Linked DNA regions of Homo sapiens: regions 1 and 3 are each linked to region 2. Evidence: fine-mapped expression QTL. A gene starts in region 2. Each other region holds a variant in brackets. All regions are shown on one strand. Distances are from middle to middle.

The links.
Region 1: its variant is fine-mapped to the expression of EFHB in sun-exposed skin (GTEx, PIP above 0.99).
Region 3: its variant is fine-mapped to the expression of EFHB in coronary artery (GTEx, PIP 0.98).

Annotation. Positions count from the first base shown.
Region 1 is chr3:19,751,634-19,762,313 of GRCh38, forward strand. No RefSeq gene overlaps it. Among named protein-coding and RNA genes, the nearest start is that of EFHB, 180 kb to the right of the region's middle. The variant C/T (reference allele first, on the strand shown) is at 6,164.
Region 2 is chr3:19,928,223-19,938,902 of GRCh38, forward strand. It overlaps EFHB (EF-hand domain family member B), which reads right to left and starts at 5,995. Exons shown (of 13, transcript NM_144715.4): 1 at 5,008-5,995. The coding sequence starts at 5,796. RefSeq lists a silencer at 2,995-3,289.
Region 3 is chr3:20,574,703-20,585,382 of GRCh38, forward strand. No RefSeq gene overlaps it. Among named protein-coding and RNA genes, the nearest start is that of SGO1, 390 kb to the left of the region's middle. The variant A/G (reference allele first, on the strand shown) is at 4,304.

The DNA of each region.
Region 1 (10,680 bases), 180 kb before region 2:
TTCTGCTATACTCATTAGGCATTTTTACTTCCATTTTCCCCTTTATTAAACAATTAGTTATATGTTTTTAATGGTTATAGCTGTTGCAACATGCCTTACATACCATAAGGTTAATTCGACTTCTTCCTTTCCAATTTGGATACACTTTATTTCTTTCTCTGGGCCACTTGCTCTGGCTAGGACTTCTAGTACTATGTTGAATAAAAGTGATGAAAGTGGGCATCTTGGCCCTCTCTCACCACTCTTATTCAACATAGTGTTGGAAGTTCTGGCCAGGGCAATCAGGCAGGAGAAGGAAATAAAGGGTATTCAATTAGGAAAAGAGGAAGTCAAATTGTCCCTGTTTGCAGATGACATGATTGTATATCTAGAAAACCCCATCGTCTCAGCCCAAAATCGCCTTAAGCTGATAAGCAACTTTAGCAAAGTCTCAAGATACAAAATCAATGTGCAAAAATCACAAGCATTCTTATACACCAATAACAGACAAACAGAGAGCCAAATCATGAGTGAACTCCCATTCACAATTGCTTCAAAGAGAATAAAATACCTAGGAATCCAACTTACAAGGGATGTGAAGGACCTCTTCAAGGAGAACTACAAACCACTGCTCAATGAAATAAAAGAGGATACAAACAAATGGAAGAACATTCCATTCTCATGGGTAGGAAGAATCAATATTGTGAAAATGGCCATACCGCCCAAGGTAATTTATGGATTCAATGCCATCCCCATCAAGCTACCAATGACTTTCTTCACAGAATTGGAAAAAACTACTTTAAAGTTCATATGGAACCAAAAAAGAGCCCGCATCGCCAAGTCAATCCTAAGCCAAAAGAACAAAGCTGGAGGCATCATGCTACCTGACTTCAAACTATACTACAAGGCTACAGTAACCAAAACAGCATGGTACTGGTACCAAAACAGAGATATAGACCAATGGAACAGAACAGAGCCCTCAGAAATAATGCCACACATCTACAACCATCTGATCTTTGACAAACCTGACAAAAACAAGAAATAGGGAAAGGATTCCCTATTTAACAAATGGTGCTGGGAAAACTGGCTAGACATATGTAGAAAGCTGAAACTGGATCCCTTCCTTACACCTTATACAAAAATTAATTCAAGATGGAGTAAAGACTTAAATGTTAGACCTAAAACCACAAAAACCCTAAAAGAAAACCTAGGCAATACCATTCAGGACATAGGCATGGGCAAGGACTTCATGTCTAAAACACCAAAAGCAATGGCAACAAAAGCCAAAATTGACAAATGAGATCTAATTAAACTAAAGAGCTTCTGCACAGCAAAAGAAACTACCATCAGAGTGAACAAGCAACCTACAGAATGGGAGAAAATTTTTGCAATCTACTCATCTGACAAAGGGCTAATATCCAGAATCTACAATGAACTCAAACAAATTTACAAGAAAAAAACAAACCCATCAACAAGTGGGCGAAGGATATGAACAGACACGTCTCAAAAAAAGACATGTATGCAGCCAAAAGACACATGAAAAAATGCTCATCATCACTGGCCATCAGAGAAATGCAAATCAAAACCACAATGAGATACCATCTCACACCAGTTAGAATGGAGATCATTAAAAAGTCAGGAAACAACAGGTGCTGGAGAGGATGTGAATAGGAACACTTTTACACTGTCGGTGGGACTGTAAACTAGTTCAACCATTGTGGAAGTCAGTGTGGCGATTCCTCAGGGATCTAGAACTAGAAATACCATTTGACCCAGCCATCCCATTACTGGGTATATACCCAAAGGATTATAAATCATGCTCTATAAAGGCACATGCACACGTATGTTTACTGCGGCACTATTCACAATAGCAAAGACTTGGAACCAATCCAAATGTCCAACAATGATAGACTGGATGAAGAAAATGTGGCACATATACACCATGGAATACTATGCAGCCATAAAAATGATGAGTTCATGTCTTTTGTAGGGACATGGATGAAGCTGGAAACCATCATTCTCGGCAAACTATCTCAAGGACAAAAAACCAAACACCGCATGTTCTCACTCATAGGTGGGAATTGAACAATGAGAACACTTGGACACAGGAAGAGGAACATCACATACTGGGGCCTGTTGTGGGGTGGGGGAAGGGGGGAGGGATAGCATTAGGAGATATACCGAATGTAAATGATGAGTTAATGGGTACAGCACACCAACATGGCGCATGTATACATATGTAACAAACCTGCACATTGTGCACATGTACCCTAAAACTTAAAGTATAATAAAAAAATTTAAAAAAAAATGGAAGTGGGCATCTTTGTCTTGTTCCAGATTTTAGTGGAAAGGCTTCTAATTTTTCCCCACGTCATATGATACTAGCTGTGGATTTGTTATATATGACCATTACAGTGTTGAGGCATGTTCCTTCTGTACCCAATTTGTTAAGAGTTTTTATCATGAAGGATGTTGAATTTCATTGAATGCTTTTCTATCATCAATTGAAATTACCATTTTTTGTCCTTGATTCTGTTGATATGATGTTATCATGTTTATTGATTTGTGTGTGTTGAACCATCCTATACACACAATTTTTATCTGTTCCACGGCAAATTTTCTTATATTTTTTTCTGTCCCTAATGCCCCTTTTTATTAGGGACATGTGGTGAGAACATGCGGTGTTTGATTTTCTGTCCTTGTGATAGTTTGCTGAGAATGATGGTTTCCAGCTTCATCCAGGTACCTACAAAGGACATGAACTCATCCTTTTTATGGCTGCATAGTATTCCATGGTATATATGTGCCACATTTTCTTAATCCAGTCTATCATTGATGGACATTTGGATTGGTTCCAAGTCTTTGCTATTGTGAATAGTGCCACAATAAACATACGTGTGCATGTGTCTTTATAGTAGCATGATTTATAATCCTTTGGGTATATACCCAGTAACGGGATGGCTGGGTCAAATGGTATTTGCACTGTTTTTGTTTAACTTCTGCTTCTCTTTCTTATTTATTTATTTATCTTGGAATATTCTTCCTCAAGCTATGGGTAAATTGATTGTGTAGAAAGAAACAAGGCCATGTTCCAGGCTAGGAGAACTTTCCTTATGACCTGCAATGGAACATATTCTTCAGTCCTATACTTCTCCCCTGCCAGTGGAGTGAAGCAGCTTTCTGAAGACTCAGTGTAGTCTCTCCCCACTACCCTGCCTCACTAATAGTTTCCTGCAATATGGATTTTCTCTGTGACATGATTTGTTCAGCACAAACTTCACTTTCAAAACCGACCATATTAAGGGAAGCTTCTGCACCTTCTCCTTTCACCTTGCTTCCCTTGTTGCAATAAGGAATTCGGATTTTGAACTTCAAGAAGGACCTTTCAGTTTGAAAAAGAGTGCCCTTGTGCTCTCTGAGGTCTATAAGTTGTAGGTATCTTTGCTCCACTGTCCCCCTTGTTCCTCTTTGTTTTTGGCAGCCCATCCATGTATTTTGTGATTTTGTGTTTCTGTTGTTCTCTAAGATGAGTTTGCATTTCTAGTCCCCTCTCTTAGGGGGAAGGACAACTAGGGATTTCTAGAATGAAGTCATGCTGCCTTTTCTGGTTTTGTCAAACCAGAAGTACAGACAATTCTTTTATTATTATTATTGTTTTTTATTATTATACTTTAAGTTCTAGGGTACATGTGCACAACGTGCAGGTTTGATACATAGGTATACATGTGCTATGTTTGTTTGCTGCACCCATCAACTCGTCATTTACATTAGGTATTTCTCCTAATGCTATCCCTCCCCCAGCCCCCCACCCCACGACAGGCCCTGGTGTGTGATGTTCCCCACCCTGTGTCCAAGTGATCTTGTTGTTCAATTCCCACCTATGAGTGAGAACATGCGGTGTTTGGTTTTCTGTCCTTGTGATAGTTTGCTGAGAATGATGGTTTCCAGCTTCATCCATGGCCCTACAAAGGACATGAACTCATCCTTCTTATGGCTGCATAGTATTCCATGGTATATATGTGCCACATTTTCTTAATCCAGTCTATCATTGAGGACATTTGGATTGGTTCCAAGTCTTTGCTATTGTGAATAGTGCCACAATAAACATACGTGTGCATGTGTCTTTATAGTAGCATGATTTATAATCCTTTGGGTATATACCCAGTAATGGGATGGCTGGGTCAAATGGTATTTCTAGCTCTATATCCTTGAGGGATTACCACACTGTCTTCCACAATGGTTGAAGTAATTTACACTCCCACCAACAGGGTCAAAGCGTTCCTATTTCTCCATATCCTCTCCAGCATCTGTTGTTTCCTGGCTCTTTAATGATTGCCATTCTAACAGGCATGAGATGGTATTTCATTGTGGTTTCAATTTGCATTTCTCTGATGGTCAGTGATGATGAGCATTTTTCATGTGACAGACAATTCTTTTACAAGTTTAGCTGTGAAAAGGAATTGAACATGGCTTGTAGCTGGAGAAGAATGTGGGAGTCAATGGAGAGTTTTCGTTTAGATAAAGGATCCAAAGGTTATTGGTGTTGTTGGCTGATGAGAATATTGAGTGGAAAGGAAGTAATGATAATGGAAGAGAGAGAGAGGAGTTAGAGAAAGAATAAAGTCTTTGAGAATTTCACTTTTCCTCAGGTATAATAGGAGCAAAGATAGAGAAGATGGGGCTGATGCAGGTATGCTTATAGATCTGGTGGAAGGTACATGAACACCTTCCCATTTGATGACTGCCATACCTCATTAAAATATGAGCTGAACAAAAGGAGACATACAAATGGCCAAAAAAAAGTATGAAAAAATGTTCCACATCACTAATCATCAGAGAGATGCAAATCAAAACTGCAGTGAGATACCATCTCACACCATTCAGAATTGCTATTACTAAAAAATCAAAAAATAACAGATGCCAGGAAGGTTTCAGAGAAAATAGAGCTTATACACTATTGGTGGGAATGTAAACTAGTTTAGCCCCTGTGGAAAGCAGTTTGGAGATTTCTCAAAGAACTAACAATGGAATTGCCATTTGGCCCAGCAATCTAATTACTGGGTATATACCCAAAAGAAAATAAATTGTTCTGCCAAAAAGACACATGCACTAATATGTTTCTTGCAGCACTATTCACAATAGCAAAGACATGGAACCAACCCAAGTACCCATCAACGGTGGACTGCACAAAGAAAATGTGGTATATATATACCATGGAATACTACACACCCACAAAAAGGCAAACAAAATCTTGTTCTTTGCAGCAACATGGATGCAGCTGGAGGCCATTATCTTAAGTGAATAATTGCAGAAATAGAAAACCAAATACTGCATGTTCTCACTTATAAGTGGGAGCTGAACATTGGGTATACATGAACATAAAGATGGGAACAATAGACACTGGGGATTTCAAGAGGGAGGAGAGGAAAACTACCTATTGGGTACTATGTTCACTATTTGAGTGATGGGATCAATAGAAGCCCAAACCTCATTATCATGCGGTACACCCATATAACAAACCTGCACATGCACTCCTTGAATTTAAAAAAAAGTTTTAGTTAAAAAAATATGTGAGCTGAGGACACCAACCTAAAAGAAGGAGGAGAAAAGAGAAAAAGTCACAGAGAGAGAAGATGGTAGGAAACAGTAACCTTGGAAGATGTATAATTCCAAGAGACACATTGCTGGACATTTGAGTCTTGAAATCAACCTTTGTATACTTAATTGCTTTTATGTCGGAATAGTTTTTTTTTCCAACTTTTAAAAGCTGGAATCCTTATGAAGATAACCTATATAGCAATGCCAATAAAAGCTTGACTGGTGGGAAAGTTTTTAACACAGAGAGGCAGATAGGAAGCATTCCTGGCAAGGGAAATGCAATGAACAAAAAAGCACAAAAACAGGATGCCATGGAGCATGGACAGGCATCATGGAAAATATATTAAACCACACTTTAAACTCTTGGTCTTTATTGATTAAACCACCCTTTTCAAATGTGAAATTATCGTCTACCAGGCCACAACAAAACTATTGTGGCAATATGAAATGCAGACATGTATAGAATTCTTGAGCTGTGATTGACGTCATGCTGACCAAACACACACACACACACACACACACAAACCAAAAAAAAAAAAACAAAAAACAAAAGAATGCTTTATTGCCCATTGTTGTACTAATGGCA[C/T]TCAAACACATCTACAATACAATTGGTGTTCAAAGCAATGTGACTAGAGCCATATGGTTACTCCTGCACTTACCATCCAAGGATCATTGCTTTCCCACTACTGTGTGACTTCTAAGCCTGAGTCATAAAAATTCACTGTTTCCACATTGTTCATTGGAACACTCAAATTTTGATCCCTGAGTCCACCTATCTTGATGACATTATGCTGTGAGGAATTCAGACCACACAGAGATGCCACTCCTGCTGTAGTCCTAGTTTTTGAGTCATTCCTGCCTAAGAACCAAACATGCAAGTAAGCAAGCCTTCAAATAATTCCAACCACCATCCATTAAGTCACTTTCAGCCTTATAGTCCTCCCAGCTAAGGCCCTAGTCATTCTGGACCAGAGACAATTTATTGCCATTAAGACCTATTTGAATTCCTCACCCATAGAATCCAAGGGCACAAAAAAAGAAAAAGTTGTTTTAAGCTGTTAAATTTTGTAGTAATTTCTTATGCAGAAATAGTAACTAGCATAGTAATATTTTAAACAAGCAAGTGATACACATACAGCAGTAAGATATCTTTAATTAAGCCACCATTATGTGTAAAATTGCCGTGTTTTTGTTTTTGTTTTGAGACAGGGTCTGACTCTGTTGCCCAGGCTGGAGTGCTGGAGTGCAGTGGCGCGATCTCGTCTCACTGCAACCTTGACCTCCCTGGCTCAAGAGATCCTCCCACCTCAGCCCCCTGAGTAGCACATGCCACTGTGCCTGGCTAATTTTTTTTTTTTTCCCTAGAGACGGGGTTTCACCATGCTGCCCAAGCTGGTCTCCAATGCCAGAGCTCCAGGGATCTGCTCATTGTGGCCTCCCAAAGTGCTGGGATTACAGGTGTTAGCCATGTGTGCCTGACCTGTGGTGGGATTTTTAAAATAAGCAAGACACCGAATCCTTACTTTTAGACTCTGAAAAAGACACTTTATAAGAACTGTACAAGACAAGTGGACATGGCAGTGTTATTAGCAACAGAATGATTATAGACACTCTTTCCAAAAGACAGTGTTTTTAGATTGGAATTTGTCAGAAGTGAAGGAAAGGTTGTAAAAGTCAGGAAATGTAAAGCTGCTTTTCTCATTTAGGAGAAAACAGTGAAGCTGGGTGCCCTTCTCATCTCTCACCAAACAAATGTACTTCCTTTGTGAGGTTGGCAGTGAAAAGACTAACTGGTCTATAAATTATTGAAATGGCATCTGGTTAGATGTTGATATGGTCATTTAAAATTAAAATGTGTTGTATTAGCAAGTGCATGTTTATGGAAGAATTAGGCACTCACATATCAGAGAAAATGAATTCATAAACATGATCATAAATCTTCTAACTTATCAATTGATACTTTGCTCTCTTTCAGATATTTCCTAAGCTCTGCTTCCATCTTTTATTTAGGGATACAAAATGTCTTGACATTAAAACCAGATAAGAAAATATATACAATTATATATACAATTAGAATTATTATATGCTAAAACATGTATTTGTTCAAAGACAAGACAGAAAGAATAGCCATCACTTGGGAGTCATTAGATTGATACAGAAAAGGCATTATCTTGGATCTGGAACAATATACAAGATAAATGCTCACACAGTTATCACTGGGAGTGGAATTCGGGCAGAGGAGGAATTACTCACTTTCTGCATCATGAACATCTGTAGTGTTCCATTTTTTACAAAAATAATGTGTTGCTTTTTGGATGCCAATTCAAACAAATTAACGTTTATAAAATACTCAAGGAAATCTGAACACTAACTGGATATTAAATAAGAAAATGGTGTTGTGATTATACTTTTTAAGGGTCTTATATTTTAAAGAGATACTGAAATATTTTCAGATGAAATATTTTAATATGTCTGGGATTTCCTTTCTAATAATCCAAGGGGTGGGAGGAATGGGTAGAGAGTTAGAAAAAATAAGATAGATCATGTACGAATAACTGTGAGGCTGAGTGTTGAGTAAATAAATGTCTCCACTTTCCTATGTGTGTGAAATTCACCATGACACAGTGTTAGAAACATAAATTGCTTTTATAGTCAAAAGTAAATGTATATGTTTAAATAATATGTTCTCCCAATAAACAGATCCATCATAAACGATACTATAAGTGACATTTAATGATCATGAAAGATGTTGATATATTGTCAAGGGATACAAACAAAAATGTTAAAATACATATATGCTTAAACACACACATAATATATGTAATATATATAATTGTACAATAAACGTAATATAACATAATAATAAACTTATATGAATGCATTTATGAATGCATTTATACATAAAGATAGGGCTAGAAAGAAATAGACCAAAACATTATTGATCATCTCATGCTACTGGTATTAGAGGTAATTATTTTGTTCTTCTTTTTGTAATTAAAAAAAGGATCATTTAAAGTTATACAGAATAAATAATAATCTCAAAAGAGAAACTGAAGAAACATTTTGTTAAGTACTTTTGTGGCTTTTTTATTTTATACATAGTTTTTTCCTTTTCAAAAGCTGGAAAACTTAGAGTTTTAGAATATATATGATGTACATACATTGCTACTCAGCATACTATGCTTCCAGCTATTCCTAAAACAGTGCAAGAAATGATTTTAAACTACAACTGTCTGCCGTGATTACTCCTGGAGATAGGATCACAAGGACATTTAACAGATATTTTTCATCTAATAACATTTCTGATTTCAACTCCAGAAGAAAGACAGCAATTTTATTCAGAAATAGAAATAATCATAAGCTGGAAAATTTATTCTGATTTATGTTCTTTAGTTTTGAGATTCAGAGATAGAAATGCAACCAAGAGCCCACTATTTTCGGAATTGGCTAAACTGAAAATTAAGGCATAGACTTACTAGTCAATTTGGGTAAATACCATCAAATGCTACAGATACAGAAGTTTCTGGTTTGGGGTTAGGAAAGGTAGTCAAGGATTTTTCCAAACCTCTCCATCAAACAATAGTGACAAGGCCTATTTATTCTTGCCTGCAGCTCCCAAAATTAATTGGCTGCACCTTTTAAAATATCCCAAATCAGTTCTTAATAGACAAATTGATGTCTCTGTGAGGTAAACTTTTGTTTACAATACTCTGTGAACATGAAACTAAAGCATCAAAGCAAGAATTTCTGATAACGTTATTCATAAAATTAAACTGACTAAACCAAGTTCCAAATGACAAATTTACATTCAAATGAGTTTAAGGGTATTTTTTCTCCTATGTTCCATCAGTTAGTTTTGTGAATGTAGATACTTCCTGCACATGATGCTTGACATTGTGTGGGACAAAAAGTCTAAGAAAACGTATTTGACTGATATGTTAATTTTTTACTGGTATGTTAATAGTCATTATACTTCAGCCATATACTTCTGTAACACAGATCCTTATGTCCTGGTATCCATGCCCTTGTAAAATCCCCTCCCTTTGAATGTTGGTGGGAACTGTGGCTTGCTTTTAGCCAATAGTGATGGTGAGTCACTTGAATGATTACGTTTCATAGAATTGTGACCTCCATCTTACAAGAAGACTCTCTCCCTTGCTGGATCTGATGAAGCACGTGACCAGATTCAGAGGCCTATGGTGCAAGACACTAAGGACAGCCTCTGGGAACTGGCGGTGACCTCGAGCCAACAGCAAAAATTGGGAACCCTTTACCTTATAACCTCAAGGAACTAAATTCTGTCAACCACCACGTGAGGTTAGAAGGAGATACTTCCCCATTCAAGTCTTCAGATAACAACCCAACCCTGTCTGATACCTTGATTTCATCCTTGCAGAGAACTAGCTAAGCCATGACCACAGAAACTGTGAGATAATAAATGTGTGCTGTCTTAAGCCACTAAGTTTGTGAAAATATTGTTTTGTAGCGAATCATATTAATACAGCTTTATTTTCACAATTGGACAAAACTTAATTCTGTCATATTTCATAAAGTAGAGCAACTTTTAGCTCCAAATATAACCAAAAAAAGGTTAAACATTGGACTAAAAAGAGTTAGTCCAATTAATAAAGTTGTGATTTCTCTCTAAATAAGCTGCACTTTTATATTCAAAATACCAGCTGTGGTAATTTTATGATGTAAGCTATTTTCCATAATATAGTTTTCTGTTTTAAAATATACAAGGTTAAATTAGATCTGAAGTAAATACTAATAAGAGAGACACACAAACTGATCTAATTTTATTTTCTAATTCTCTTTTTGCCATGACTTCCAAGCCTGCAGAAATTTTACTCCTCTGTTTCAGAACCACAGAGTATATTAGAAGAGGTAAGAAAGAAAACTATTATTTACCCTGTGCCTGCTATATTTCAAACCCTGGACTAGATACTTGACATACATTCTCTTGTTTAATTTTTATAACCACTCTGCAATGTAGGCATTAGTTCTAGCATTTTACTGTTAAAGAAACTGAGGCTCAGAAATCTGACATTACATACTTAAGATATCACAAGTAGCAAGTGGCTGAATGCTAAGTGAGGGTTC
Region 2 (10,680 bases):
GTTTACCCTTAGAAAATGAACTATTTTAATTCAGAAAAAATATATATTTCAATAAATGTGGGAAAAGCTTTTCACAGATTGTTTAGTCCTGATTTTTAAACTTTCTTAGCAAACTGGAAATGGATACAAGTGTTCTTAACTTTAAATATCAGAAATCTCCCACAAAATCACATGTAATAGTGAAACATTATAATCATTCCCATCAAAATCAGAAAAGAGACCTTGTTGTTGTTTTGTTTGTTTGTTTGAGGCGGAGTCTCGCTCTGTCGCCCAGGACAGTGGTGCGATCTTGGCTCACTGCAACCTCCGCCACCCAGGCTCAAGTGATTCTCCTGCCTCAGCCTCCAGAGTAGCTGGGATTACAGGTGCCTGCCACCACACCCAGCTAATTTTTTAGTTTTTAGTAGAGACGGAGTTTTGCCATATTGGCCAGGCTGGTCTCAAACTCCTGACCTCAGGTGATCTGTCTGCCTTGGCCTCCCAAAGCACTGGGATTTCAGGGGTGAGCCACCGTGCCCGTCCAAAAGACATTGTTTTTAATATTGTATTTTTTTTCTTATCATAGCCAATGCAGTGAGGTAGGAAATAGAGATAGATGAAAGGTATAGATACTAAAGAGAAAAGGACAAAAGTGTCAATATGATTGTCAACCTAAAATATCCATACACAAGCAAAATAGTCATTAAAAAAGGAAATAATGATAAGCAATTATGACTAATAAGAGTTCAGCAAGGTGACCACACACAAGGATTAAAAAAAAATAAAAACAAACATATGGAGCAATTTTCAATCTAATTATAAGTTAAAGAAACATAAATTAAAATAATGCCTAACAAATTATTATGATTTTTAAAATTTATTGCTACAATCTTTTAGGAAGAGATTTGGCAATAGAAACTAGAAAAAGATCCATGCTTTTGGCTTCTGCTGAAACTCTATCCTTAAGCAAATATTCCAATACATATAAAAAGACTTTTTTTTTAACTTTTTTTTTTTTTAAGAGACAAGGTCTCACTATGTTGCCCAGGTTGATCTCAAACTCCTGGGCTCAAGCAGTCCTCCCACTTCAGCCTCACAAAATGCTGGGATTATAGGCATGAGCCACCATGCCTGGCTGACAAACTATTTTATAGAAAATTCTGGAAGAATAAAAAATGAATACCCAACAATAGAGGGAAAGAGTTAACTAAAGAATTGGCTTGGCCAGGTGTGGTGGCTCACGCCTGTAATCCCTGCACTTTGGGAGGCTGAGGTGGGTGTATCACGAGGTCAGGAGTTCAAGACCAGCCTGGCCAATATGATGAAACCCTGTCCATCTCTACTAAAAATACAAAAAATTAGCCGGGTGTGGGGGCAGGCACCTGTAATTCCAGCCACTCAGGAGGCTGAGGCAGGAGAATTGCTTGAACCCAGGAGGCGGAGATTGCAGCGAGCCGAGATGGTGCCACTGCACTCCAGCCTGGGCGAGAGCGTGAGACTCCATCTCAAAAAAAAAAAAAAAAAAAAAGAATTGGCTTAAATATTTTTTATCATTAAAAGATCTTTTTGAAGTCTTTGTAGTAATAGTTAAATCTTATAAATAACAAATGAAAAATCAAAACAAATTTTGCACTCGATAATAACAACTACATAAAAGTGCATTTGGATAAAAGTGTCATAAAAAGTATAGAGTAACTAACAACTCAGGCTCTCAAATAGGAATTTGAGATTTCAAATCCCACCACTTTTTAGCTATATGACTTTAGCCGAATTACCTAAATTTGCTTCCATTTCTTTACCTGTAAAATAGGATTTAGTAATAGTAGATGACTCACAGGTTGCAATAAGGGCAAACGAATTAATACCTGCAAAGGTCTATGAATAGCCATATTAATATAGTAAGCCACCAATAAATATTAATAATCGTGAAACAGTAAAGTGCTAATAGGCATTGTGTTAAGGTGATAAGATTCTAGGCATTTTCATCCCTGTTTTCTAAATTTTCTATAATGTTATTATTCTTGTGTTATAATCAAAATAAATATTTTAACATCTTAAAAATTATTTTTAAATGAAGCCTTGTTTCTAACAAAGTTAGAATCCCTCCTCTTGCCTATAATCCTAATTCCATTCCCTTCCACTCATCTAGAATCTGGTTCCACCCATTCTCTTCCTTTGTGTTATCTCAAACTCCTCCACTGATTCACTAAATAATAAGATTTCTAAGTGGAATATTTACTCTTTCTCTTCACTGTCATACTTCTTAAGAGAAAAAAATTTCATGATAGCTTTCTCCGATTCTAATAACCCATTCGCTCTTCAGTATATTATAATCTGAATTCTTTTTCTATTATGTCGTTCTAACAATGTTGGTAATTTCTTAATGTCCAAAGTTAATTAATCTTATTTTTACTTTATTTTTAGAGACAGGATCTCATTTTGTCACCCAGACTGGAATGCAGTGGTGTGATCATAGCTCACTGGAACCTTGAACTCCCAGGCTCAAATGATCTTCGCACCTCTCCCAAGTAGCTAGGACTACAGGCACATACTACCACACCTGGCTAATTTTTCTTTTTTGTATAGGCAGAGTCTTGCTATGTTGCCCAGGCTGATGACAAACTCCTGGCCTCGAGAAATCCTGCTGCCTGCTGGGCGTGGTGGCTCATGCCTGTAATCCCAGCACTTTGGGAGGCCAAGGTGGGCCGAACACTTGAGGTCAGGAGTAGGGGACCAGCCTGGCCAACATGGCGAAACCCCTTCTCTATTAAAAATACAAAAATTAAATTTAGAAAAAAAAGAAGGAAAAAAAATTAGCCGGGTGTGGTGGCATGCTCCTAGAATTCCAGCTACTGGGAGGCTGAGGCACAAGAATCGCTTAAGCCTGGGAGGCCGAGTTTGCAGCAAGCTGAGATTGCACCCCTGCACTCCAGCCTGGGTGATGGAGTGAGACTCTGTCTCAAAAAACAAAACAAAACAAAAAAACCCTCCTGCCTCAGCCTCCCAAAGTGCTGGGATTACAGCTAGTGCCACTGCACAAGGCCTATCAGAGATGATTTAACACTGCTGGTCACTCTCTCCTTGACACTCTCTTTCTTGTCCTATCACATTTAGAAAGGAAGGTATGCGAAGTGGGAGGAAGCAGAGGTTTTAGAATTGCCTGTGCTGGAAACTGGAAGCTGGTGTCTGCATGTGTGTGAGATCAGATCAGATCAGAAGCTGTAAATTGCAGAACCAATCCAGAAATGGGAACCGGTGTGGTCAAGTAAAGTGGCTGGGAAAACCCAAAGAGGAAACCAGAAAGCAGTGTGAGACAAAGAAGAAAAGAACATTCTGAGTCTGAAGGGGAAAAGTCTTCAAACCCAGACAAAATTCTGTGGAAGCCCTGTGACCTCTTCAGCTGAGTTTTATTTTCAAATTTCAGTGTGTGGAATCTCTTACTCACATTATAACTTAAGGACACTTTCTTATGTTTCTCAATACCAATGTCTCAGACTTACTTTTTTCTTCTCCGACTGGTCTTTCTCCCATTTAATCATCCGGGTTTCCTTCTATTTATCAAACATGTATTTATTGAATGACCACCATAAGCCAGGTATTGTGGTATGACATGAAGGTAAACAATGAACAAGATATAGTCCTTGCCCTCAAGAACTCACCTTATTGACATCTTTTTCACTGACCACCTCATGTCAATGTTTCCCAAGATTCTTGCCTTGACTTTCTTCTCCCATTCACACCCATGGGGCATCAATTGTCTCATATTACCAAGTGTTTCCCTGGCTTCTTTACCTGTCATCTCATATTGAAGATAGCCAACACTGGACATTCATTTGCCACCAAACCCAAAGAGATCATTATCAACACAGAAACTCCTGAGTCATCCACCAACTTCCCTTACTCACCACGTAGATCCACAACTGAGTGGCAATTTTTTAAAATGTCATCTAAAAACCTCTCAAAAGTGCAGTCTCCTTTCTATTCTTTCTAACTCTACATTAATTCCAGTCCATCAGAACTTTGGAATGTTGTTCTAACTACCTACTTGTCATTCAGTATCTCCCCCTTCCAGTCCATCATAACTACTGATATCAGAATTATCTTTCTAAAAGGCAAATTTTATTTATTTTTACCCTTATTAAGATCCACCATTGATACTGTATCCATATGTTTTATCCCTATATTCTGGGCCTTTAGATGTCTTCTACATATTTCTTCTTCATCTTCATCTCTCAACACCCTGCTGGCTGAATACAACTGTTTATGCCTCTCGAACATAGGAAGCTTTGGTTGTGCTCTATACCTTTTTATGCCCAAAATGCTCTAACCTCATTCTTTCTTCAGACAAATACTGACACCTTTCGATGTTAGCTCAAATATTACTTTCCCTATTAAGCTTTTCCCATCTCTTCTAAACAGAATTGTGCAATCTTTACACTGAGCTCTGTATTCAGAGTGTACTTCTATGAAGGAAGAATCATGTGTGTTTTTATAAATTTAGATAACTGTATACTATTCCTTTAGTTATCTGTCTCCATTACTGGAGTGAGCCTAAACCTAGAGGTAGGGACCATGTACTTTTCAATTTAGTTTGTCCTGTACCTGGCACAATGGCTACCACAAGTCTTTGCTGAAAGAACAAATAACTCACAGACTAAACAATGAATGGAAAAAGAAACACTTTTCTTTTCCATTCATAGTATGAATATTAGGGCACAGCATGTATCTTCATGTATTTCAATATGTGAGAGGCTTGAGGAAAATGAAATGAAGGTTAAAGGAGAAAAGAGAAATCAGAACAAACCACCGGTGTGCAGAGAAAACAAAGCTGACATCTAGGAAGGGAGGCAGAGAATCAGAAATCTAAGTAACATCTGCAAAGATTCCAGTGGGGCAAGAAATATAGGAATCTCATAAAATCCTTGTGATTTGTCTCTTCAAACCAAAACAAATTTTATCACTTTATCATCTCAATAAAGACATGGCTATACACAGTTTAGTTCCTATGGAAAGTGGAAAAAAACTTACACTTGGCCAGCAAGGGGTCCGATCAAAAAACTTCCCAGAGTATATGGGTCTGATGCGATCTGGAGGTTCCACTCCTGATTCAATGTTTCCAGCCTCCTTTCTCTGTTCATGTTGTTGGGCAAACTGGCATTGGGGAGGTTCTATCACCAAGCCCATTTGGGGCTCTGTATTCTTAGTCTCATCTGGCCCCTCGGCTTGGGTTAGTCCAATGTCCACCTCCACAGGAAGCTTAATCTCTGTGTTGGGTTTCATTAAAACACAGGTAGACTCTTTTTCCATTTCCTGTCTTGGTTCCATAACGAAAGCAGGCTTTCCCACTAATTCCTCTACCCCTTCAGGGCCACTAGCCAAAGGAGCTCTCCTGCTCCCTGCAGCCTGTGAACTTCCACACACCCTGCCCAAAGGAGGCTGTATTATCCGTTCATGGGTATATCCTGCAAGAAGACTCTCATTTTCTAACCCCATTCTTCCTGGCAACAGAGAAGGTTTTGTTCCCTGTGAAGCTGAGACACTGTCGACTCCTAAACTACCCCTCTGCATGACAGTCCTAGAAATATTCTGTCTTTCTAATCCCATTTCAAGCCCCTTGCTCAATGGAAATTTTGTTTCTGGTGGTGCCATCCTTCCCTCACACTTATTACTAACCACAGGGCTCTCCCCGCATCGGGAATCTTCTTTTCCTAATCCTACTCTGATCCCCAACTCCATGGGAAATTTTGTTCCCATGATGACCCTCTTGTCTCCTAAATCATCCTTTCCTTCGTGGGGATGTCCAATCTCCATGTTCATGGACGATTTCTCCCCATTCTCATTTCTCCAAGAGCGCTCATCTCTAAGGGGAAAGCTGTACCTGGCTACAAAGACGCCTCCAATCCCTTGCGGAACCCCTCTCTCAGGAAAGAGCACAACCTCACTCGGACTCCCTGTCCATTGCTTCCTGCCTGCCTCTTAACACCTAGCCGAGTTCACAGAGGAAAAGATGGAGTCTGTTTATCAGGTTACCTGGGAAACAGGGGCGGGGCTTGGCGCTCAAGTCCTGCTTGGACAGATCCCTGCCCATCTCTCATTCTTCTCTCTCTCTCTCTCAATCTCTCTCTCTCTCCCCTCTTCTCTCTCCTCTGTCTCTCTCTCTCCCCTCTTCTCTCTCCTCTGTTTCTCTCTGCCCCCCCTTCTCTCTCCTCTCTCTCCCTCTCCTCTCCTTTGCCCTCTCCCTCTCTCTCCCTCTCTGTGTGTCTCTCTCTCTTGCCTTTCCTCTCTCCTTTCTCCCTCTCTCCCCTCCCTCCCCCTCTTCCCCTCTATCCCTGCTTCCTCTCTCTTTTTCTTTGCTAGATTTGGAGGGCGAGAAAATTTGAGTGATGTGGCTTTCGGCGCATCAAATGTTCACCAACTTCTCTGGTTTCCCAAGCAACACAGTCGTTTTAGAATGGTTTCAACAATTGGCTTCTTCCTGGCCATTGGCCTCTTAATGTTGGTGATGATGAACAAATAAACTTTCTGGTGATGAACACTTTTTTTAGGTCCTTCCTTGTCCAAGTACCTCCGCCCTGCATGTAGTTATTTTAGTGCTAAAAAATGACTTTAAATTCTAGAAATATTATATTTGACAACTGTGGCATAAAGACATCTTAAAGTCCTTGAGAACACTTACACTTTAACAACTAGGCTTTAAATCACATTTAAAGTAATTTTTTTTTTTTTTGAGATGGAGTCTCCCTTTGTCGCCCAGGCTGGAGTGCAGTGGCACAATCTGGGCTCACTGCAAACTCCGCCTCCTGGGTCCAAGCGATTCTCCTGCCTCAGCCTTCCGGGTAGCTGGGATTACAGGCATGCGCCACCATGCTAGGCTAATTTTTGTATCTTGAGTAGAAACGGGGTTTCACCATGTTGGCCAGGCTGGTCTCAAACACCTGACCTCAAGTGATCCACCGCCTCGGCCTTCCAAAGTGTCGGATTACAGGCGTGAGCCACTGCTCCTGGCCTAAACTAAATATTTTAAAGTTTGAGATATGCTACACAATAAGGCATATTGTATTTTAAAGATAATGTGGCAAACTAAAACTTCATTGTTTTTAAGTAGGAGATTTTTTTTTAAATTGAGGTTTCACCTTTCAGATTTTAATGAAAGTATATTTGGTAAATATTTGTCATGTTCTACACATATAGGATATGAAACCCCTAGCTTGGAATTTGAACTGAATTAGGCTGGGCACAGTGGCTCACACCTTTAATCCCAGCACTTTGGGAGGCCGAGGCAGGCAGATCACTTGAGGTCAGGAGTTTGAGACCAGCCTGGCCAACATCGCGAAACCCTGTCTCTACTAAAAATATAAAAATTAGCTGGGCATGGTGTCCAGCGCCTGTAATCCCAGCTACTCAGGAGGCTGAGGCAAGAGAATCATTTAAACCCGGAGGCAGAGGTTGCAGTGAGCCTTGATGGTGCCACGACACTCAAGCCTGAACAACAGAGTGAGATTCCATTTAAAAATAAAAAACCAAAAATGGCCGGGCGCAGTGGCTCATGCCTGTAATCCCGGCACTTTGGGAGGTAGAGGCGGGTGGATCACGAGGTCAGGAGTTCGAGACCATCCTGGCCAACATGGTGAAACCCCGTTTCTACTTAAAATACAAAAATTAGCTGGGCCTGATGGCAGGCGCCTGTAGTCCCAGCTACTTGGGAGGCTGAGGTAGAAGAATCGCTTGAACCTGGGAGGCGGAGGTTGCAGTAAGCCGAGATCACACCACTGCACTCCAGCCTGGCGACAGAGTGAGACTCCATCTCAAAAAAAAAAAAAAAAAAAAAGCAAAACAGAATTTGAAAAGAATTTACAGGATTCCAGAACTCTACAAAAACCCCTTAAAATCCAAAAATATTTTTTTAAAAGTGTGTAGGGGTCTGGACATAGTCACTCACCTGTAATCTCAACACTTCGGGAAGCCAAGGCAGAAGAATTGCTTAACGCCAAGAATTCAATTAGCCCAGCGTGGTGGCTCACATCTGTAGTCTCAGCTATCTGAGAGGCTGAAGTGGGAGGATCACTTGAGCCCAGGAGGTCTATGCGGCAGTGAGCCATCATTGCACCATTGCATGCCAGCCTGGGCGACAGACTGAAAAAAAAAAAAGTCCAGGAGTTCAAGACATGCATGGGTAACACAGTGAGACCTATCCCTACAAAAAATTTCAAAAATCAGCCAGGTGTAGTGGTACATGCCTATAGTCCTAGCTACTCAGGAGGCTGAGGTGGGAGGATCACTTGAGCCCAGGAATTGAAGGCTGTAGTGAGATATGATCATGCCACTACACTCTAGCCTGGGTGATACAGTGAGATCCTGTCTCAAAAAATAAAAATAAAAAATAAGGCCAGGCGCAGTGGCTCATACCTGTAATCCCAGCACTGTGGGAGGCCTAGGCGGGTGGATCATTTGAGGTCAGGAGTTCGAGACCAGCCTGACCAACATGGTGAAACCCTCTTTCTACTAAAAATACAAAAATGAGCTGGACATGGTGGCCAGCACTTGTAATCCCAGCTACTAGGGAGGCTGAGGAAGGAGAATCGCTTGAACCCAGGAGGTGGAGGTTGCAGTGAGCCAAGATTGCGCCATTGCACTCCAGCCTGGATGACAAGAGCCAAACTCCATCTCAAAATAATAAATAAATAAATAAATAAATAAATAAATAAATAAATAAAAAGTGAGAAGGATATACTAGGGAGGCTGAGGCAGGAGGATCACTTGAGTTCGAGACCAGCCTGGCCAACATGACGAAACCCCATCTCTACTAAAAATACAAAAATTAACTGGGCATTGTGATGCTCACTTGTAATCTCAGCTACTCGGGAGGCTGAGGCAGGAGAATCACTTGAACCGGGGAGGCAGAGGTTGCAGTGAGCCGAGATCGCACCACTGCACTCCAGCCTGGATAACAGAATAAGACTGTCTCAAAAAAAAACACAAAAAACTATTTTCTACAACTTTCTAGAAGGTTAATATAAATATTCTTCTCCTTAGTTCTTTTTTTATGGTGCCAAATTTAAATAGTTTTATTTAAGACATTGCATTTTCCATTTGCAATACAGTGTTTATAAAGTGCAATGTTATTTCCTTCCACATGCACATGTTCCATACTCAAGTATTGAGAATGCCCAAGAATTTACTATAGCAGCTCAATTTTTAAACTGCTACAGACAGTCATATTGTGACCATGAAGAAGTATTCTGAAGACAAAGCTAACACACACAAAATAGGAGAGCACCGAGATCATCAGGACCAAAGCTCTGATCAAACTGTACCTAAAACTCACATAACTCTAGACTTACCAGTCACATGGGCCAATGTCCCTGCTTGACTCACATTTTCTGTTATCTGTAACTGAAACATCTTTATGTCTACCACACTTAACAGTCAACATCCCTTAAGACTTTACCTCCAGAAAACTTTTCATGGCTGGTAAATACTCTTCTCTCTTTTCCTTTGAGCTCCTCCAGTACCAAGAGTCTGAGTCACTCACCTTATCACTTCTCTCTCTCAGACATACACACATACAACAAACGCTTGTGGCATATTTGTGGTATTTTACCTAACTTTCTGCCCTTCCCTTGGTTATAGCCCTGACCCTGGTACAAGATAACATTCAACATTTGTTACACTAAATTGTGACTGTCAGTGCTTCTGTCTCCTCCTCCCCTGAAGACTGTTAGCTCCTGCGGCCTGACAGTCCCTTGACTCAACTCCTCTCTACTTCAATGTTTTATGCTTTGACCCAAAAAGACGGGGCTTAGTAGTGAGAGAGGTGGAAGACTGAAGGGCATCCATCCGAACTTGTTTACTAACATTTATGTGTTCTTCCCTAGTTACCTGCCTCCATGCCTTTGCTGGAGAGGGAGCCACCTAGGTTCCCTTCACCTGGAATGTCTATTTTCACACATTCCAAACTCAAGGCCAACTCTGAAAGGAGAAAGGGCTGTGATTGACTGGGAAAGGACATGTGGCAACTTTCTGAGATTACGGTAGTGTTCCGTATCTCAATAGGGATGTGGATTACACAGGTATATACATTTGTCAAAACATGAAATTATACTCTTAAGACGCTTGCATTTACTTCATTTTATGGATATTTGAACTTTAAAAAGGTTCACATATTGAACTCTAGTAAATGGCATGCATGATGAAATGTTTAAAGGAATGTGTACACATGCTCATAATTTTGAAATGCATAAAGTGTTGATACATGGCTGGACATATGTGATAAAGCCAAGTGTAGTAAAATGCTAATTGTAGAATCTGGGTGGTAGATATATGGGTGTTCACAGTACAATTACTTTGATTTTCTGAATGTTTGAAAATGTTCATCATAAAATGTTAGGAAAAAAATAAGAGATGTGGGTCAACATCTCTGGTATCTTCACAGTCACAGACTTGATTTAGACCTCATTACATCTTAACTGGAATCTTGCAATCACCTTTACACTGGCCTTCATGTTAGCCCACTGCAGTCTCTCCTCACCCCAAGGATCGCCAGAGAGAACCTTCAGAAGCAAAAATTGGACCTCCGTGATCCAGTCTCTGCCAACCTCTTCAGCTTTATCCCTGACGCTTGCCACCTTACTGCGGCCTGTACTACAGCTCAACCCAGGGCGTGTAGTTCCACTCGCACACTGGGCTATTTTATGACTTTCT
Region 3 (10,680 bases), 650 kb after region 2:
GAATGCATAAACTATATAGGAGAGACATGAGGATGTCTATTTATCAATAGAAAAAAAAAGAGACTCAGTGTAGGTGGTGGACTCCAAGTAAGAGCAAACTTTAAGAGAGCCTTGGGCTAAGATGTTGTGGCTAGGAGGAGGAGAAGCTCTGGGACTGAGCATAAAACACACACATTGGAATGAAGACTCTCCTACTCATACCCGTGGGAATAGGATGGTGAATAATGCCAGAAAATTTCAGTGCACTTCCACCGGGAAGTTGAGGGATGCAGAGACCTATTCGCATTCTTGAGATTTTGTGGATACGAATCCAATGTATCCTGACCTAGAATGACCTTCTAAAATGACAAAAATATCTCAGATAATTGTGGGTGTAACAGAGGTAAAAGAGGCTGAATTATTGAAATGGTAGCCTCAATTTTACCTGACATGCTGAGGAGAACTGGTCTTCATTTACAGTGTTTTGCCAGTCTCAGTGTTAATCATGCTGACTGCTCCTTTCAATACCCCTCTGAGGTAAGTTAGCTCCTCCATTAACCCTAATAGAAGAAGTCTGACTCAGCAGGAATACTAAATGAGAAACAGAGAAAATCCAATTCAGACCTTGCAGCCACCCAACCCAAGTTACTCTCTGAGGGCCTCATCATTCTTTTCTGCAGATAAAGATATACCAAGATTGACTCAGCACAGAATGCATGGATAAGCGTTGGACAATTAGAATACAGCTATCATGTGACTCAAAACCCCATATTTCTAGAATGAGCAAGCATACTATTAGAATGAGCATTCATATTATTAGAGCTATATTATTTTAAAACAGCTACTAGATTAAGAAAGGCGCCCCTGCCTAGTCCCTCTGCTGCCTTTAAGCATGTATGTGAAGTGTGAGAGACAGGTGATCACCACAGGTTCAAATAGAATTTTGTATGTGAATGTGGGTATAATATAACATTCTCCAGCTCCAACTTTGAATATGTGTAAGGCAGTCCCTGAGGAAGTTCTCTTCCTGACTACATATGAGCTATCCTCGTAGGGTAATTGCAAGAGTCTGAAATTCTATACTACCTAGTTTGGAGAACAAGCTGGTGTAATTTGAATTTTACCATTCATGAAACCACATTTGTATTCCCAGTAGTTTTGGAGAAGTGTGGTTGGATCCCTCCTTTGTGTAAAATCTCAGATCTCTCCTCCGACAGCTCAGGTTGAGCTCATGATACCTGTCTCCATGAGTTAAGATATAATGACAAGGTAATCTGATGATTTACTTTCCCTCTGTATGCCTTTGGGGTTTCTTTTCTTTTCTACCAGCAAATAATCAGGTAAGTGAAGTGATTTATGCTAGTGCAGATTTGAACTATGGGTTTGTTTAAAATTTGATATTTTGTTAATCATAATTTTTTGCATTAACTTAGATTTCATTTTTTAAAATTGGTGCAAAAAATTGTGATTAACAAAATATCATTTAGATTTTTAAAATCAAAACTTACGTAAAAATGTTGCATTATTATATTATTTACCTCAATAGCTAATTTTGTGTGTGTGTGTGTTAGGAGCATATCTTCTCTTAAGTGTTTTGCCTGAGTGAAGTGCCTACTCACGTTACCATATTCTCCGTGCTGGAAACAAGTATGTATTTATTAAAGCTTTGTTTTCCCTTTTAAAATAGTTTCCTTGGCTAGTTATATGAACTTAGATTCATTACATAACCAGTCCTTCTTGGGATAAAAACCAGATGGTGAATTGTTGTGCTCTGAGATAGATTTTGCTTTTGGAAATTTTCAGATAATAATGATTGCCACTTCATGTAGGTTTTGAAGAAGCCCTGAGGGTAATTGCAAAGGAATGACTAAAAAAGATATTGGACACAGGGATATCATTAAATAATAGATCTTTTTAAAAGTTGGTGCTCTGAAGATCCATTTCGGTAGTTAAGGTGAAGGTATGTTTGCTCCAAAGGCCACATTATTTTCTTTGTGTGCCACATATTTTTGATGAAGTAAATTTGAACTTACATAGTTCACATCATCCTGATGAAAAAACATATTAATTCCTTAAATAAATGCATGTGCTTATTTTGTTGACACAAACTAGAAATATGTATTTCTGAGAGGATAATATCTGGAATATGTATTTTCTCATTTACTGCACTGTTACTGAAAAAATCCTGCAAAGATTTTGTCTTAGGTCATTGTATTGTGGCCACATGCCTTCATATTCTTGATATGTCTGTATCTGCACACACCTATTTCTAATTTTTTGTTGTAACAGCTTTTGCCTGAAAGCGGTTTAGAATTTCTGTGATAGGAGAAGGGAAAGAGCAAGATAGAGAAATAGGACTTTCCCACTCTTGTTTCCCCACAGAAACATTAATTTGAAAAACCATTCATGTGTGAAAATACCTTCACAAGAGCTAAGGGAACCAGGTAAGAGATCACAACACCGGGATGTAGCACAGAAAAAAAAAAGATGTATTGAAGAGGTCAAAAAGAACAGTTTTACATTAACTGCATTACCCTTTACCCAAATGCAGGCAGCACAGTGTGGAGAAGGATGCTCTCTGCATGTGGGAAGGACAGGGAAGTAAGGACCAGATTCTGCCTTGGACCCCAGCATAGGCCACTGTAGTAAAACCCAGCACGGGGCAGGCTTCTGTGGACCCAGGCGCCAGACTGAAACTTGCAGACTGAGTTATTACACTTGCCCCAGTGCCTTGCTATTATCACATAGCACCAAGCTCCAGGCCTGCCTGCTGAACTCAACCTCTGGTCTTCCCTACCACTGGGCTGACCTCAGTGGCTCCAGGCCTCAGACCACCCTTAGTGCCAGGCCAGCTCCAGTGGAGCTGGGCCTTGGGCTTATACCAGTGGCACCAGCATTTGGACCTGCTCAGGGTCAGGCTGACTCCAATAACCCCAGGCTCCAGACCACCCCCAGTGTCAGGCTGACCCCTATGGCCCTGGGCTTCAGGCTTGTCACAGCACTATCTACCCCCAAAGCCATTAGGGGGTAATGGCTCATTAGGCCAGCACCCATGGCCAGCCCCTCCAGATACAAGTTCCAGGTCCATCTAGCACTAGGACAGCTCCTGCACCCCCAGACACCAGGCCCATCCTAGGATCCAGACAAGGCCAGAACTAAGTTGATCCACACAGCCCTAGGTGTCATGCCTGTTCCAGTGCCAGATTTGCACATGGCTTTAGGCACTATGTCAACACACATGGACACAGACTCTAGGCTCCCCAGCAGAGTGAGTCTCCAGCAACACTCTTACATATCCAAGCTTCAGAGTAGACATTGTGGACCTAAGGCCTAGGTTTACCCTTGAAGACTTAGGATCCAGGCCCGTTCCAGAGGACACAGACTTCAGACCCATCCTACTGCCCGGCCAGCCCCTTCAGATTCAGACTCACAGCCCATGTCAGTGCCAAGTCAGCCTCTGTGGACATAGGTGTCATGTTAGTTCTCAAGGGTATAGGCTCCAGGCTCACCCCAGTAGACCTACTTGACAGGCCCATTCTAGTGGATCCAGGACCACCCAGTGGCAGACCCAGGCACCATGCCAGTAGCTAGATGACTCCAGCAGCAAGCCTTCCAATAAACTATGCCAGAAGGCCTGCCCAAAGTTTCTGAATGGGCTGGCAAGTAAAGGGCTTTCCCAGACAAAGCCAGCCTATAAAGACATAATTAAATGTATACTTCTTCAAATGGGCAGACACCAATGCATGGCCAGAAAAATCAAGGACAATGAGGGAAACATGATATCTCTGAAGGGAAATAAAGTGCCAGTGATGATTCTAAATAAATAAAAATGTTTGAGTAGCCTGAAAAGGAATTCAAAATACTGTTTTAAGTAAGCTCAGTGAACTTCAAAAAAAATACAGAGAAACAATTCAAAAAAATGAAGAAAACAATAAATGACCAAAATGAGAAATTTAATAGAGATAGAAATGTTTAAAAAATTGAATAGAAATTCTGGAGCTAATGCAATCAATGAAATGAAAAATGTGTGTATGTGTATGTGTGTGTGTGTGAGAGAGAGAGAAGGGGGGGAGAGAGAGAGAAAGAGCAAGAGAGAATCAGTTGCAGAATTGATCAAGCCAAAGTACATCTGAACTCAAAGACAGGGTATTTGAACATATGCAGTCAGAGGAGCAAAAAGAAAAAAAGAATGAAATGTAATGAAGAAAGTTTATGGGAGTAGTGGGACAGCATCAGAAGAGCAAATTTTCAAGTCAAAGGACCTCAAGAAAGAGAAAAGGAAGACGAAGGTGTTGAAAGCTTATTTAAAAAAACAATAGTGAAA[A/G]CTTTCCAAACCTAGGGAAAGATACAAACATCTAGGTACAGGAATGTCAAAGGTCTACAATTAGGTTCAATCTGAACAAGCCTAGCCCAATACATATTGTAATCAAATTGTCAAAAATCAAAGCAGAGAGGATTCTGAAAGCAGCAAGAAAAAAGAAGCAAGTAATATTTAAGGGAGTTCCAATAGGCTAGCAGATTTCTCAACAGAAATTTTACAGGCTAGGAGAGAGTGGGATGATATATTTATAGTTCTGAAGGAAAAAAACCCCATCTGTCAATAATACTGTGCCTGGAAATTCTGTTCTTCAGAAATAAAGGAGAGATAAAGACTTTTCCAGACAAACAAAATTTGAGGTAGTTCATTACCATGAGATCTGTCTTACAATAAATGCTAAAGGAGCTCTTCATGCTGAAAGAAGAGGTTGCTAATTAGTAACATGAAAACATATGAAAATATAAAACTCACAGGTAAAAGTAAGCACACAGTCAGAAGAATACTTGAATACTCTAATAATAGCATGTAAACCATTACATCGTTAGTATGAAGGTTAAAAGACAAAACTATTAAAAGTAATAATAGCTACAATAATTTGTTAAGGGATATGCAATATAAAAGATATGAATTATACCATCACAATTCAAAATATAGAAGGAGAGTGGAGTAAAAATGTGGAGTTTGTGTGTGTGTGTGTGATCAAAGTTAAGTTGTTAACAGCTTAAAACAGCCTGTTATATTTTCATAAGCCTCATGGTGACCCTGAAGCAAAAACCAATAGTGGATATGTAATAAATAAATAGCAAAGAACCAAAGGATAGCACTATAGAAAACCACTTACACAGGAAGACAGCAAGAGAAGATGAAAAAGGACTTAAGAAAAGATGGAAAACAATTAGCAAAAGGGCAGTAGTAAGTTCTTGCTTATCTATAATTATCTTAAATGTAAATAAATTCTTCAAACAAAGGACACAGAGTGGCTTAATGAATATAAGAAACAAAACACAACCATTTGCTGCCTAAAAGAAACTCATTTCACTTGTAAGGACACAAGTAGTCTGAAAGTGAAGAGATAGAAAAAGATATTTTATGCAAATAGAATCCATAAAATAGCACAGGTTAAAAATTATATCAAATACAATAGCCTTTAAGTCAAAACTGTAAAGTGAAGGTAATTACAAAGAAGGTAATTTATAATGACAAAGGGGTCAGTTCAGCAAGATGAGATAGCAATTGTAAATACATTCAATATTGGAGCACCTAAATATAAAAAAAATTAATAGAACTGAAGGGAGAAATAAACTGCAATACAATAATAGGGTACTTTAATATACCACTTTTAGCAATGGACCAATCATCCAGATAGCAAATAAACAAGAAAATATTGGACTTAAACTATATTTTAGACCAAATGGGACATAACAGACCAATATAGAACATTTTGCCAAACAGCAGCAGAATACACATACTTCTCAAGTGCACACAGAACCTTCTCCAGGGTAGATCATATGTTAGGCCACAAAGTAAGTCTTAGCAAATTTTAAAATACTGAAATTATATTATGTATCATTTCTGATCACAATGGTATGAAATTGGATATCAAAAACACCTTGAATTTGTGGAAAAATTCACAAATACATAAACATTAAACAACTTACTCCTAAACAACTAGTGGGTCAATGAAGAAATTAAAAGGGAAATTAAAAAATATCTTGAGACAAATGAAAATGAAAACACAACATACTAAACTTATGAGATGAAGCAAAAGTCGTTCTAACAGGGAGTTTTATAGCACTAAATGCTTACATCAAAAAAAGAAGAAAGAGATCAAGTAAGCAACCTAAGACTGCACCCCAAGGAAATAGAAAAAGAACAGACTAACCCCAAAATTAGTAAAAAGAAGGAAATAATAAAGCTGAAAGCAGAAATAGAGTAGAAAAACAATATAAAAGGTCAATGAAACTAAGAGTTGGTTTTTTGAAAAGATAAAAGTGCAATCCCCAAATTCATATGAAACCACAAAAGACCCCAAATACCCATAGCGATCTTAAGCAAGAAAAATAAAGCTGGAATTATCACATTATCTGATTTAAAAATATGCTACAAAGCTACAGTAATCAAAAACAGCATGGTACTGGCATGGAAATAGACACATAGATCAATGGTACAGAATAGACTGGAAATAAATCCATGCATTTATGACCAACTGATTTTTTTATAAAGATGCCAGGAATACACAATGTGTGAAGGACAATCTTTTAAATAAATTTTGTTGGTAAAACTATATCCACATGCAGAAGAATGAAATTAGACCCTTATCTCATACCATATACCAAAATAAATCCGAAATGAATTAAGGACTTAGAAATAACATGCAAAGCTATAAAACCATCAGAAAAAATACAGTGGAAAAGCTCCATGCTATTGATCTGCATAATGATTTCTTTTTGTCTGTAACCCCAAAAGAATAGGCAACAAAAGCAAAAACAGACAAATGGAATTACATCAAAGTTAAAATCTGCATAAAAAAGGAAGCAATTGACAGGATGGAGAGACATCCTATGGAATGGGAGAAAATATTTGCAAACCATATATCTGATAAGAAGTGAATATCCAAAATATATAAGGAACTCAATAGCAAGAAAATGAATAGCCTGATTTAAAAATGGGGCAAGAACGTAGACAGACATTTCTCAAGAGAAAACATACAAATGACCAACAGGTATGTGAAAAAATGATCGACATCACTAATCATCAGAGAAATGCACATTAAAACCACAAGGAGTTATCAGCTCACACTTGTTAGAAAGGCTTTTATAAAAAAGATGAAAGATAAGTGTTGGTGAGGATGTAAAGAAAAAGAAATTCTTTTTTTTTTTTTTTTGAGATGGAGTTTCACTCTTGTCGCCCAGGCTGGAATGCAGTGGTGCGATCTTAGCTCGCTGTAACCTCTGCCTTCCGGGTTCAAGCGATTCTCCTACCTCTGCCTCCTGAATAGCTGGGATTACAAGCACTGGCCACCACGCCCAGCTAATTTTTGTATTTTTAGTAGAGACAGGGTTTTGCCACGTTGGCCAGGCTTGTCTCGAACTCCTAGACTCAGGTGATCCACCCACCTTGGCCTCCCAAAGTGCTGGGATTACAGGCGTGAGCCACCACGCCTGGCCAAGAAAAAGAAATTTTTACACACTATTGCTGTGAATGTAAAATTAGTGTAGTCATTATAAAAAACAGTATGAGGCTCCTCAAAAAATTAAAAACAGAACTACCATAATATCCAGCATTCCCATTATTGGGTATATAGCCAAAGGAAGTGAAGTTAGTATGTTGAAAAGATATTTGCATTTTCACGTTCTTTGCAGCATTATTCACAATGGCCAAGATAGCAAATCAAACTGTCTGTCAATGGATGAATGAATTAAAAAAATATGGCATAGATACACAATGGAATACTATTCAGCCATTAAATAGTCATGTGTGACAACATGGATGAACCTGGAGGACTTTATGTTAAGTGAAGTAAGCCAGGCACAGAATGACAAACCCCACATGATCTCACTTATATGTGGAATCTTAAAAAGTTGAACTCATAGAAGTAGAGAGTAGAGTGATGGTTACCAGAGGCTGGGGTGGTGATGAGGGAGTAGGGGTTGGACAGACTTTGGTCAAAGGACACAAAATTTCCTATAAATAGGAAGAAAAAGTTCAAGAAATCTTTTGTACAATGTGGTGACTATGGTTAAAAATGCTAACAGTAGATTTTAAGGGTTCTCATTAGAAAAATGATAACTATATGAGGTAATACATATGTTAATTTGATTTAGCCATTCCACAATGTATATATGTTTCAACATATAATGTTTTACACAGTAAATATATATATTTTTTTGTTTTTCAATTAAGAAAATAAAAAACATTAAAAATTGCTGTGATATTTACTTTAAGAAAGCTAAGCATTGCAGACCTTCTTGGTGCTATTGGTATTTGTTACAAACCATAGTTGTTACCCAGTCACAATCACACATAGTACCAACTCTCCAATCTTACATATATTCTCATTTTTCTTGGGAAAATACCTAGGTGTAAATTTATTGAATTATGTAGTAAGTGACTGTAAGGAACTTCTGAACTGTTATTAAAAAGATCTGCATCATTCTTATTCCCACCAGAAATGTATGAGTTTTTGTGGTGCTGGATGCTTGCCAGAACTTTGTGTTGCCTATTTGTTTCCTTTTGTTATTCTAGTAGATGGGTAGGGGTATCCAGTGCGATTTACATTTTTATTTCCTCAGCCACAAAACATGAAGATTTCTGTTACTCAAGAAAACTGACTGATGGTCAGTTTTAACTGGGTAATAGTTTAAAACTTTTCAACTTGATTCTTCTAAGATTATCTAACACGTTATACATAAAGTAATATATATTATTATTAGCAGAAATATAATGAGTTTATACTTCAAGAGTAGGGAACTACTTAAGGAGATAAATGTAACATCTGTTAATTTATTTGCAGTCAGCCTAATTTAAAATTTTAAAGCATAATAGGTATTTATTTTGTTGGTGGTTTTGTTTTCTAAGAAATAGTAAGTCAAAACTAATAAAAAATCAACTGGTTACATTTTCATTATAAGTAGTAATTTATATGCAATATTAGAAACTTCAAATATTATTTTGTATTGGTGTACATAAAAAGTAATTGTAGAATTAATTATTGACTATTTTTCCTTTAGTAGTCAAAACTATTCATTTATGATTTTAAGTGTGCTTGGCTTTAAGTATATACTGACTGCTTAGGAATTTAGCTCTTCTCATACTTCAAAACACTTTGAATAAATAGTAAGTGCTTTTGAAAATACTTTTCTGTGCATGTTCTGATGGCTAGGGACTGGTAATAAGTTACATGCCTGTGTCAAGTGCAGGTCTGGTGTAGAATTACTATCAACTACATTGATAAATGATGCAATTTACTGTAGTATTCTGATTTTTTTAATAACATTACACTGCTATGTAGAGTACTTCACCTATTTTTTTTTCTGATGGAGGAATTGACACTGTCAAGTGAATATAAATAAAGTTGAAAATACTTTGATACACAATCCTTGAGATAATTTATACATAATTTTTGATAATTCTGACTCCCTAAATTCTTTTTTCTTCGATTATAGAAACTGATCAAGTGCATGTATTTGCTTGAATATGCACATATTGCCAGCATTTATCCATTCAATTTTGTATTTATACACTGGAGCCTCACCTATTCTATGTAGATAATTTCAAAGAATTCAAATAAAAAAAACAGGATGGTGACAATTCATTATTTTGACTTTACTGTCTTAGGAGACAATGATGGTGTTCTATTAAAGTGCTACTCAAAGTATGTTTTGTGGGTGGATGTTGGTCCACAAACATAGTGGCTTACAATGACATATGTTCAGAAATTGAAGGCACACATTTTGAAACTTTTAAAGTAATTGGAAATCGTCATGACTTCCAAGCAGTGCAATGCAGAAAAGTTGGTCTATGATGACCTGGGGTGGGACAAGGGCCAGGGGTAGGGTTAATATGATCCTTCATTAGATGCTTTGAAAAACGCTTATCGATAACATAATAGCAATTCTCTGAATTCTTTGACTTTGAAATATAACTTTATTGAGTGCTATGTGTCAGGTACCATGCTAAATATTTTACAGTGGTGTCTTATTTATCCCACATACGATTCCTACTGTGTGTTCTTGTTGGATCCATTTTACAGAAGCGCAAAGAAGTATCTTGCTTAAGGTCACACAGCTAGCAGATACATATCAAGATAACTATGGAGAATAAAGTAGCTTTAGGTAAACTGATAATTCTACTTTGACAGTAGTTCTTGCTGGTTTTGGCTCTTACATGTGCAACCGAAGGACAGTAAGTGATGTATATACATTGTAGGACTTTCTGAGACGTGTGCCTCTGGTTTAGGATGGATGAGTGGACAACCAACCTAGATAAATCACAGCCTTACTATTTCAGGGGTGAAAAGAATCCTCTGTCCCAGTGTGAACACTTCAGATATATGTTACCACATAAAAAAACATAAATCTCACTCATAACCAATAGGAGAGCTCCAACACATTCATGAAAGATCCACCGTGGAGACCTAAATACCTCGCAGTAGGCCCCACATCCAACATCGCAGAACAAATTTCAGCATGAGATTTGGAGGGGACAGATATCCACAGTGCCTTCCTTTGTTGATTCTAATTGGCTCTGAGGCTGAAAATTTAATGATTAAATATATTAGGTGTTGAGTAAAAGGCTAAGGTATTCCCATTTGATAAGTGTATTGAATTGACACATAGAAGATGTGACAATGCTTGTGTTTCTTCAAAGTATCTTTTGTATTT